2 separate regions of the Homo sapiens genome follow, and region 2 is reported to be linked to region 1. Evidence: microRNA targets listed by miRTarBase, many of them from high-throughput screens and not tested one by one. Region 1 holds a microRNA gene; the other region holds the end of a gene's coding sequence.
The links. The annotated mature microRNA hsa-miR-3135b reads GGCUGGAGCGAGUGCAGUGGUG and lies in region 1 at 3,209-3,230, shown strand. An mRNA with a match to its seed (bases 2 to 7 or 8) in the 3' UTR can be bound and repressed. Matches are read on the target gene's strand: a 7mer-m8 pairs with bases 2 to 8, a 7mer-A1 pairs with bases 2 to 7 and ends in A, and an 8mer does both.

Region 1 (5,173 bases):
ATGACAAGATTTCCTTCTTTTATACGGCTGAATAGTATTCCATTGTGTATATGCACCACATTTTTTTTATCCATTCATCTGCTGATGGATAGTTAGGTTGATTCCATCTCTTGGCCATTGTGAATAGTGCTGCAATAAACACGGGAGTGCAGATATCTCTTTGATACAGATTTCATTTTCTTTGCATATGTACCCAGAAGTGGAACTGCTGGATCATGTGGTAGTTTTATTTTTAATTTTTAAATAGATGCTGAATTTTATCTGTTTGTTTTCTTCCACATGAATGTATATGTACTCCCAGGAACTAGAACAGTGTTTCTGCCGTCAGTGCTGTTCCACTGTACCTAAACTCCTCCCTTTGAGACTGAACGATTTATTCTGTCATTGCTGGGAATGTTGCTGGCTGACTGCCCTCAGCTTTCAGTCACGCCCCGGAATTGCCTTAGGTGATGAAAGCTGCCTCATCGGATTTTGATCCACTTCCCAGGAGGAACTCGCCTATAATGATTGGTCAGTATAGGAGTATACAACCTGCTCTAATTTGGGCCGACTCTGAGGGGCTCTTGCAGCTTCTGAATAGCTTAGGCCGAAGAATAACAGTCCATTTTTTTTGTAACTGAAATAATAGTCCAATTTCTAAAACCTTGCTCTAATTCATGAGTCATTTTACATACTTTTTCCAGTTGTGATTGTAATTTAAATATATTGATCTTTGTGACTTCTGTAAGTATGGGCAATGCCTCTTCCCCTCCTTCTTGGAAGATGAAGTTATTGGCATTTTCACCCTCCCTTTCCCCTCTCCTTTACACTTCCAGTTGCCATAATGAAGTATCTACATCTTTTTTTTCCCCCCAATATTGTCAAAGCTGAAAATATTGACATTCTGCTGTAGCAATAAGATTCCTTGGGCTTTGCTCACAGATTAATTCTAAATTTGAAAAAAAAAAGTTTATCACTTTCTAAATATCACTTATGTAGTCAGGTATTCTTTGCTTGCCAAGAAACTGCTGTAGTAGGATCCGTTTTCAGTGAGATCCTGGGTTAGACCCAGTTTCCTGGATTCCTTACCTTCCTATATCCTGATTAACAATCTCAATTGGTCATATCCTTAGTCAATTTCTAGTAAAACTCTGCGTGGTAGGTAAATTTTATGTTCTTTCACATTCACAGGTATTTTTATTCTTTCTCCATGCCTGATTGTGACTTTGAAAAGATCTACATTTATTAATAAAAAATAATTTTCCTTTAGAACTTCAAGGACTTTCTCATTATCTTAATAATAGAAGTATTTTTTTTGTTGTCAGTTTGTTTCATTTTGGTTTCCGCCACTGGAATATTTTATGACTTTTCTATAACACCTGAAGTTCTGAAATTTTGAAAATGAGATATTTAGAAGTGAGTCTGTTAATTTTGCTAAATACCTGACAAGACTATTCCATGGAAGAATTAAATCCTTTATATCTGGAACATTTTCCCTTATTATTTGTTCTGATCATTTTCTCCCTTCATCTTCCCTGTTGGTCTCTCTAGCTTTGTCACTTGATGTTTGACTTCCTTGGTCTGTTCTCCATCTTATTTTTTCTACCATATATTACATTTTTTTTTTGCCTTTTAAATTACTGTGAGATTTTCTTGATTTAATTTTCCAATCTTTCTATTAAATTTTCCAATTGTTTTTAGCATTCTATTATTACTTTTACAGATCAAGAATTCTAATTAGAATGACTTTAAACTTGTTTGCTGTTACATGAACTTTCTCTATTAAATCTGTGATAATTTTCATGTTATTTTATTCTCATCTTCTCTTTCATATTGTAAGAGTTTCTCAAACATTTGCTCTGGCCTCTTCAACCTTGTCCTTTACCTACTGTATACCACCTTATTTCATCTCAAGATACATTTCTTCAAGCCACTTCTAAACTGCCCCAAACCATACCTGGTCCCTGTGCAACACTCTCTCATTTTACCTCATTCTTTTTCTTTATAAATGTTTCAGACCTTGTAACTATGTTTGTGGAATTATGTAATATATGTATTTTCCTCCCACTGGAGTGTAAGTTCTATGAAGATAATGAATGTAATTGTTTTCACATTATTTTAATAACATTCAACAAACTATGAGTACTTATTGTAGCACTGGTACTCAATGACCATTTTTGCATTTTTGATGAATTAGTGAATATATAAACAAGTCTGGGGGCTTAGTCCAGCCAATAATAAAGCAAGCATTACTTTGCTTTCCTTTGTTATTATTAGTTCCTGCATACACATTCTTTATAGTTGCATTCCTGAGAGGTTCTTACAGTCTTGGGCAGGCCTTGGACAGGGTTTCCTAAATGTGATAAAAATGAGAAAAACTGAAAAACTAACATAACTTCAAACAGAATGCTTGTCTGCCTATGTTTATGGGACTTTCCTGAATACATTTAAAAAAAAAACCTTTGTATTACAGAAAATTTCAACTGTGTGCAATAGTACAGAGAAGAATTCCATGTATCAACAGCCTTGCTTTAACAATAATCAATTCATGAGCAATTTTGTAAACCCACCCAGTTATCATACAGGCACATACTGGATTATTTTGAAGATATTTTTAGGTATCATATTTCATTTATACATTTTTATTATGAAAATCTAAAATATAATGGCTTTTTAGAAACATAACAGCAATGCCACTAACACATTTAAAACGAGATAAATAATTCCTTAATACACTCAGTGTCAATTTTTCTGATTGCCTCATATAAATTTTTTAACAGATGTTTTGTTTGAATATGAATCTAGACAAAGCTCAGCGTTTGGTTACTATATTTCTTCAGTCTTTTTCAAGTGTATAGCTTTTCTTTTCTCTATTTTTAACTTTTTTTGCAAATTGTTTGCTGGAGAAATCTTTTTATTTAATCTAGTAGAACTTCTCATATTCTGAATTTTGTTGCTTACATCCTTGTGGTGTCATTCATCATGGGATTTTGTCTTGGACTCCAGAAAATAACAATAACACAAATTTGTTAACTTCTATAAACTGCTTACTATGGGCCAGACTGTGTGTGAAGTGCTTTATTTGTAATGTTTAATTCTTCATATCTCTAGTTTGTATGTGGTAAGTACAAACCTGAAATATTTTACGTGATTTTTACGTTTTGTAATTTTTATTTATTTATTCATTTATTTATTTATTTTTAGAGACGGGGTCTCGCTGTGTTGCCCAGGCTGGAGCGAGTGCAGTGGTGCAGTCAGTCCTAGCTCACTGCAGCCTCGAACTCCTGGGCTCAAGCAGCAATCCTCCTGCCTCAGCCTCCCTACTAGCTGGGACTACAGACTGGTCTCCATCTCCTGGGCTTTAAGGGACCCTCACCTTGTGCTGAGATTACAGGCATGAACCATTGTGACTGGAAATTTTGTAAAATTTAAACAATGTGATATTACCTATTAATGAAGTCATACTTTATGTATGTAATCTGAAATAATTCAGATAACAATTTTTAAGAATCATTTAATTTAAAATCATGCAGCCTGATTTATAACTGTTTATAATAATAATATAATAATATAATAATGATGATTTCACTTTGAACTTTTAGCTGATAAAAAGATATATTTGCTCTATTTTATAAAACTAATTTTAGCTATGCTATTTTAACATTATATAAATACTTTTTGAATACATTCTTTCAGTAAAATCCAACTACCATTATATTTGCTTTCCTCAGTATTTCTTGGGGAAGGATTCTAAATAGGGGAGCATTTGTGTATTTCTGTATGACTCTGGTTATAATGCCATTCAATGTAAGCCTTACACACACACACACACACACACACACACACACACACACACAAATGCACACACCTCCAGAATGCTGGGTTCTTGGCTCATGAATCATTGAAATTTATATAAAATTTATTTTAAATCCTATTGCAGAAAAGTTCTTAGCACATTCATGCATTTTCATGTGACCATTTTTATACTACAGTTTTAATTTTATATATTTGGGATCATTATTGTTGACCTTTTCTTTTCTTTTTTTTTAATAGAGTTTATTTTAGAGAAGTTTTAGGTTCCCAGAAAAATTGTAGAGTACAGATAGATGTATCCCATATGCTCTCTGTTCCCACACATGCATAGCCTCCCCCACTAGTAACATCCTTCATGACAGAGGTACATTTGCTACAACTTATGAACTTACACTGACACATCATTATCACCCAAAGTCCATAGTTTATATTAAGGTTCATTCTTGGTGTTGTACATTCTATGGATTTGGGCAAGCGCATAATGATATTTATTCACCATTGTGGTATCAAATAGAGTAGTTTCATTGCCCTAAAAATCCTCTGTGTTCTGTGATGGACGTTTTCATGATCACCACTGGTTCAGATTCCCTGCACTTACTAATTCCCAGTCTGCATTTATAATTATTTTCTCCCGGAGTCTCCCCACCTCCTCCCCAAAGTAAATATGGATAAACTGCTGTTGCATATAATTCACCTTGACTTAAAATTTATGGGACATAAGGAGGGAATATACCCCTTAGAGAGTTAAAAACCGAAGTCAAATATTACAACTTCTTGTCCTAAGAGTTCTCTTAGCAACCCAATCTCAGCCTCTCAAGAAAGAAAAAAATCCTCCAGTTAACATATGAAAAGAAACTCACTTTTACGTCTACGCTTGAATCTCCTAAATCACTAAAGGGCTAAGGAAAACAAATGTACTTTTCATATAATATGATCCATTCTTTTTAATAAATCCATTATAAACATAACTGCAGTGTTTTCTTATATATTTATATACTACGTGTAAGGCACTGTCTATATACCAAGATTATTCAAATTCTGTCAATAACTCTGCAAGGAAAATATTATCACTCCCACATTGTGGATGAGAAAAATAAGGTTCAGAAATGTCAATCAGATACTTTACCCAGTAAAGTTTAAAATACTAGCTTCAAAATACTGAGTCAAGTATTTGGATTTAGGTTTCTTTGTACAAAACTATGCTGTATCAATTATTATGTTAATGTTTTGTCTCTTTTTTTTCTCCTATTACATTTTAAACTCACTGATGCAGATAGCATGGACAGAAATATCCTGGCAGATTTCATAGCTGTTTAGAGCTCTCAGGTCCCTGTGGACCCATTTCCTCTGAGAGATTTTCTATTAGGAGACCACGAATCCA
Region 2 (5,000 bases), not on the chromosome of region 1:
CCCCACCCCAAGCGGCCCCGCGGTCCCCTCCAGGGCAGGGTTTCCAGAATCCACCTGTCCTTAGTGTGTTCACTGCCCCTTGGCAGCCCCGAATTTTTGTACCTGTTTCCTGTCCCCTCCTTGTGTCCAGGTAGCATCCCCAGGGCCCTCGCCTCCAGCACAAATTCCAGCCTGCAGAAACCTTGTCAGCTCAGGGGGCCACGGTGCAAGGCACGCCCAGGGGAGGGAAGCTGGGGCTGCCCTGGGGTGCCTTTCTGTGCAGCTGGAGCAGTTCCATATCCTATGAAGAAACTGGTACAGAACAGCACTCCTCTGAAAAATTAGCAACCTCATCTACACAGAGACTGGACTGGAGAAGCCCCAGCAGGTGCAGCAATCCCAGAAGTGAGAGTCAGAGCTGTGGACGCCACCCTTGCTGTGGCCCAAGCAGTGAACTGGGGCCGCTAACCCCCAGGAAGGGTGAAAAGCCCCAACACCCAGAAGATGAGACCCTAGAGCTTCCCTGGCCACCCCAGCAGCCCTCCCCATCCCAGGAAGCAGACAGTTGCATGGGAAAAGCAAGGACGGCACTCAGCCAGACAGGCAAACAACTGTGGCAAACCAGTGCCAGCAGACAAAACCCAGAAACACAGAGCAAATGAAATGGTAAAAATCACTGTCAACCCCCAAGGTTATCTGCGCAGAAAGGGTCCATACAGTGGGGACGGCCGTCCTGAGGCCCGCTGGCCGGGCTGGCCCTTGGCTGGCGTCTGGGAACTGGGATTTCCGAGGGGCTCCCTGAACCCCGCCTCACTGGGCCTGTGCTATTTGTACAAGGTGGTTTAGGCAGAACACTCACATCCCTGCTGAGAGTCTGGAATTGTAGCGCAGCCCAGGCAGAAGCTGCTCACGTGACCAGCCCCCGGGTACATCACCAGGCAGGGCATCCCCAACATCGCACACGCAGAGTCCCAGCTGCTTGCAGGGGAGTGAGGCGCATCCTGCGTGACCCCCACCCCAGGAGAGGCCTCCAAAGCTGAGCATGGTGCCCCTGGACTCGGCCCCAGGAACCTTTCCCTTGGCCGATTTTGCTCAGTGTCCTCCCTGTGGGAAATCACAGCCGTGACTACCGTGACCTGCATGGCCTCTGTCCTCCTGGAGAATCGCCGCCCTGGGTGGTCTTGGGGACCCCAACTCAGTATCACATTAGAGTTCTTACCCATTAAAAAGAATGCTTAGTGAGAACACTGGGCAAAGGGCAGAACAGACATGCCTGGGGGCCTGTGCTGAGGCACTCGCCCAGTGCACCCCACCAGGAGCAGCCTGGGAACCAGCCCAGGGAACGAGGCGCCAGCACCTGGGGAAGCCTGGGGACCCTGCCTCACAGGATTACAAAGGAAAGCTGACCGCCAACTACCAAAACAGAAACAGCAAATCACTGACACAGGAATCTGCCTCTTTATTGACATGCTAAGTAACAAGACGCAGAGGCAGGTCTCATCGCAACCAACCGTGACCACAGAGGACCACAGAGGAGTGATGACAGGGAGCTGTGCTTCTAAGCAACTGCAGGAGGGAAGCGCAGTCGGAACAGCCTGCTGGCTTCTAGTGGTCAAATGTGCCACTCACACAATGGCATCTGCTGAAAAAGCTGCAAAATGTCATTTATAGGTTAGTGAACACATCCGTCTCACAGACCCCAACTAACCTGAGAATTCCAGAGGAAGACCACAGAATGACAGAAGGGAGATCAGAAACAGAAGAAAACATGCCAGAGCTAACCCAAGTCTGCAGAAAAGCCCCCACCGTGAGGAATCCCAGCTGGGATGATCTGGTGTGCTCCCTGGGGGCAGTGGCCACAGGCTCCTCTGACAATACGACAAAGGGACACACACTGCAGGGCAGGGAAAACACAGAACTTTATTTCAACAGTCATTAGGTTCCACCACACAACAGGGACACCATGGGATTGTTTTTTCATTTAATAAATACAAATGAATAAAAATACTTTATTTTGTCAAGAGACTGCCTCTCCTCCCTCTCCCGATCTCACAGAAGCCTCCAGGCAATTGTGTGCCCCTCCAGGGCCTGCACCCACAGACCCCGTCTACTTGCACAAATGACTCTTCTTTACAGAGAGGGCTCCATCTCATTTGCCTGCAAATACAACATAGGTATAATACCGCTCCTTTCCCCCATCTCCTTCCAAATACGAGTTCTTGCCCTGCGTTCCATTTTTTTTTTTTTTTTTTTTGAGACAGAGTCTCACTCTGTTGCCCAGGCTGGAGTGCAGTGGCGTGATCTCAGCTCACTGCAAGCTCCGCCTCCTGGGTTCACGCCATTCTCCTGCCTCAGTCTTCAGAGTAGCTGGGACTACAGGCGCCCGCCACCACGCCCGGCTAATTTTTTGTATTTTTAGTGGAGACAGGGTTTCACTGTTAGCCAGGATGGTCGCGATCTCCTGACCTCATGATCCGCCCGCCTCAGTCTCCCAAAGTGCTGGGATTGCAGGCGTGAGCCACAGCACCCAGCCTCCAAATTTTAAATGAGCCCCTTGTGAGAAGGAAAAGAATCTGCTGTCCACAGAAGCCAGGCGTGGAGCTACTTCAACCAGAAACTGTCACCCATGACACTCTGTGTGGGTTCAGTCACACAGACCACGATCCATTATGGAAGGGAGGGAGAAAAGGATCACATCAAATCTACTGTATGCCTCATAGACCATCCCTTATTTCAAAAATAGAAATTCCTATTTAAATGCCGCCCGTGTGCGACAGGCCTGATATTTGCTTCTGCATGTGGCAGATCTGTTATTGCTTACACTGTGGCCTCCTGGCCTGTGCTGCTCAGCTGGCCCTGTTAGAGAACATGGGAACCACATCAAAATCCTAAGTCACAAAACAAGGGCTCTGTCCCCAGCCTGGGCCCAGGGGCCCACATGCCCACCTCCACAGCCCAGTCAAGTGTGGGGATAAGGCACTCCTCTGTGCTCTGAGCTAAGATATGGTAGAGTCCCTTCTGAATTTTGAGTTGCAAAGAATGATTTTGTGCTAATAAATTCCCAGTGCATCCAAAATGTACAAAAACCCTAGAATTTCCAGTTTTTAGATTGAAAAAAAAAAATTTTTTCTGTAGATCCAGAAGAAACTTTCATTGAAACTTTAAAGACCTCACCTGCACCTGCTCTAGTAATGCACTAGTTACTAATATACAAACGTAAATCTTTGATGAGTATGGTCGGGAAAAAACTGTCTGTCCTTGTGATCAGCAATAAATTTCTTTTTTCTTTTTGAGACTGAGTCTCGCTCTGTTGCCCAGGCTGGAGTGCAGTGGCGGGACTTCAGCTCACTGCTACCTCTGCCTCCCGGGTTCAAGCGATTCTCCTGCCTCAGCCTCCTGAGTAGCTGAGACTACAGGCGTGCACCACCACGCCCAGCTAATTTTTTGTAATTTTAGCAGACATGGGGTTTCACTGTATTAGCCAGGATGGTCTCAATTTCCTGACCTTGTGATCTACCTGCCTTGGCCTCCCAAAGAGCTGGGATTACAGGCACGAACCACCGCACCTGGCCAATCAGCAATAAATTTCTTTTCTATTTACCCCATTTCTTATTAATTCACACTTCAAAAAAGCATTTCCTGGAAGTATTTCTAAGTGTGATGGTTTGTAATATATAACAAATGAAAAGATGTAATTAGATTATAAGAAAAGCATCTGCCTGTAAAATATGAAGGAAGAAAGGAAGTAATGGACTCCTCATGGGGCCCACAGGGAACCAGGAAGGACCCAGAAAGGGTGCCGGGCCCTTCCCCTGTGCTGCAGCTACAGGGCCCCATTTCTTCAGAAGGAGCGTTCTGGGTATTCCATCGTCCCCTGGAAGTCTGGCAGGTACAACCCCCTCAACACTCCAGGGAGGGAGGGAATCCACAGGAAGCCATGAACTGCTGGTTTCAGCGGGGAGAGGTAGTGCTGACAGCTCTGATAATCTACCTGAAGCCCTTTGTGAGGAATACTGTAAAACTGCAGTAAGCTGTCAATATTCGACATTAAGTCATCATTTCAGAAGAGAAGCCTGTTTGAAGTAGGAAAGGTTTGAAAAAAAAAAAAGATGCCATGGTTCTTGCAAGTCTGCCTTGTTTGGTACCAGCACAGAGCATCACTGTCACTAAGTGTGCCGGGGGAGAATGCTGAGCTGCTTGGCGGTGTGTGCGCGCCTGTGCGAGGCCAGGTCTCACAGTCCCAGAGACTTCTGGACGATCTGCTTGGCAATCTTATAGAACTGCTCCCGGTCATCGCGCCACATTTTGGACGCATCCACGTTAGCTCCACTTTCGTCATTGGGCTCTGAAAGAAAAGGGAACACCCTCCATGTAAAAGGGAGTCTTATACGTAAGCAGCCTGGCAAGGTCTCCCATTTATTTAAAACACTGGCGGGGGCTTTCAAGAGCTGTGTCCCAGAAACAAAGAACCTGAGAACTGCATGGGGTCGGCCCCACCTCTAGAGTGCTGGCCACGCAGGTCTCAACGAAAGCCACTCTCATGACTCCTGCGTTCTGAGTGTCTGAAGACACCAGGACAAGTTGTCATCTGTCTTGCTGTGGAACATGCGACAACCACCTAAGCACAGGCCCACACGGCCTCCCACAGCAGCCTCCTGGGCCACTGCACTTCTGGCACCCGGACAAGCTACACGGGGACCACCTGCTGCTTATTTCACCTTTCTCAAGACACTCTGCAGTGTGGCTTCTCTCTCACAGAGCGCCCTCTCAGCAAAACTGCCCCTCACAGCTCCTACCAAGACAATCCCAAGCAAATGTGCAGCCTAAGGTAGACACCTGACCCCAGGATACCTGACCCACCCCCTAGCCAGCGGCACTGGCAGTCACTGCAGAACTGCAGTTAGGAGGCACGGAGGGAGTAGCCAGGGCCTGCCGGAAGGCAGAACGGAGAGAGACCACCAGAACTGGATGACATGTGCTGAGGCAGCAGCTGTGCAGTGCGGCGGTGGCGCTGCTCAGAA

Region 2: the mRNA of UBE2G2 is a reported target of hsa-miR-3135b. Seed matches in the 3' UTR shown: 7mer-m8 at 3,298-3,304 and 7mer-m8 at 2,261-2,267.

The regions. Positions count from the first base shown.
Region 1 is chr6:32,748,009-32,753,181 of GRCh38, reverse strand. It overlaps MIR3135B (microRNA 3135b), which reads left to right and starts at 3,203; the gene lies at 3,203-3,270.
Region 2 is chr21:44,767,166-44,772,165 of GRCh38, forward strand. UBE2G2 (ubiquitin conjugating enzyme E2 G2) reads right to left here. Exons shown (of 6, transcript NM_003343.6): 6 at 1,415-4,324. The coding sequence ends at 4,212. Among named protein-coding and RNA genes, the nearest start is that of UBE2G2, 32 kb to the right of the region's middle. RefSeq lists enhancers at 1-18, 1,860-2,360 and a silencer at 1,269-1,563.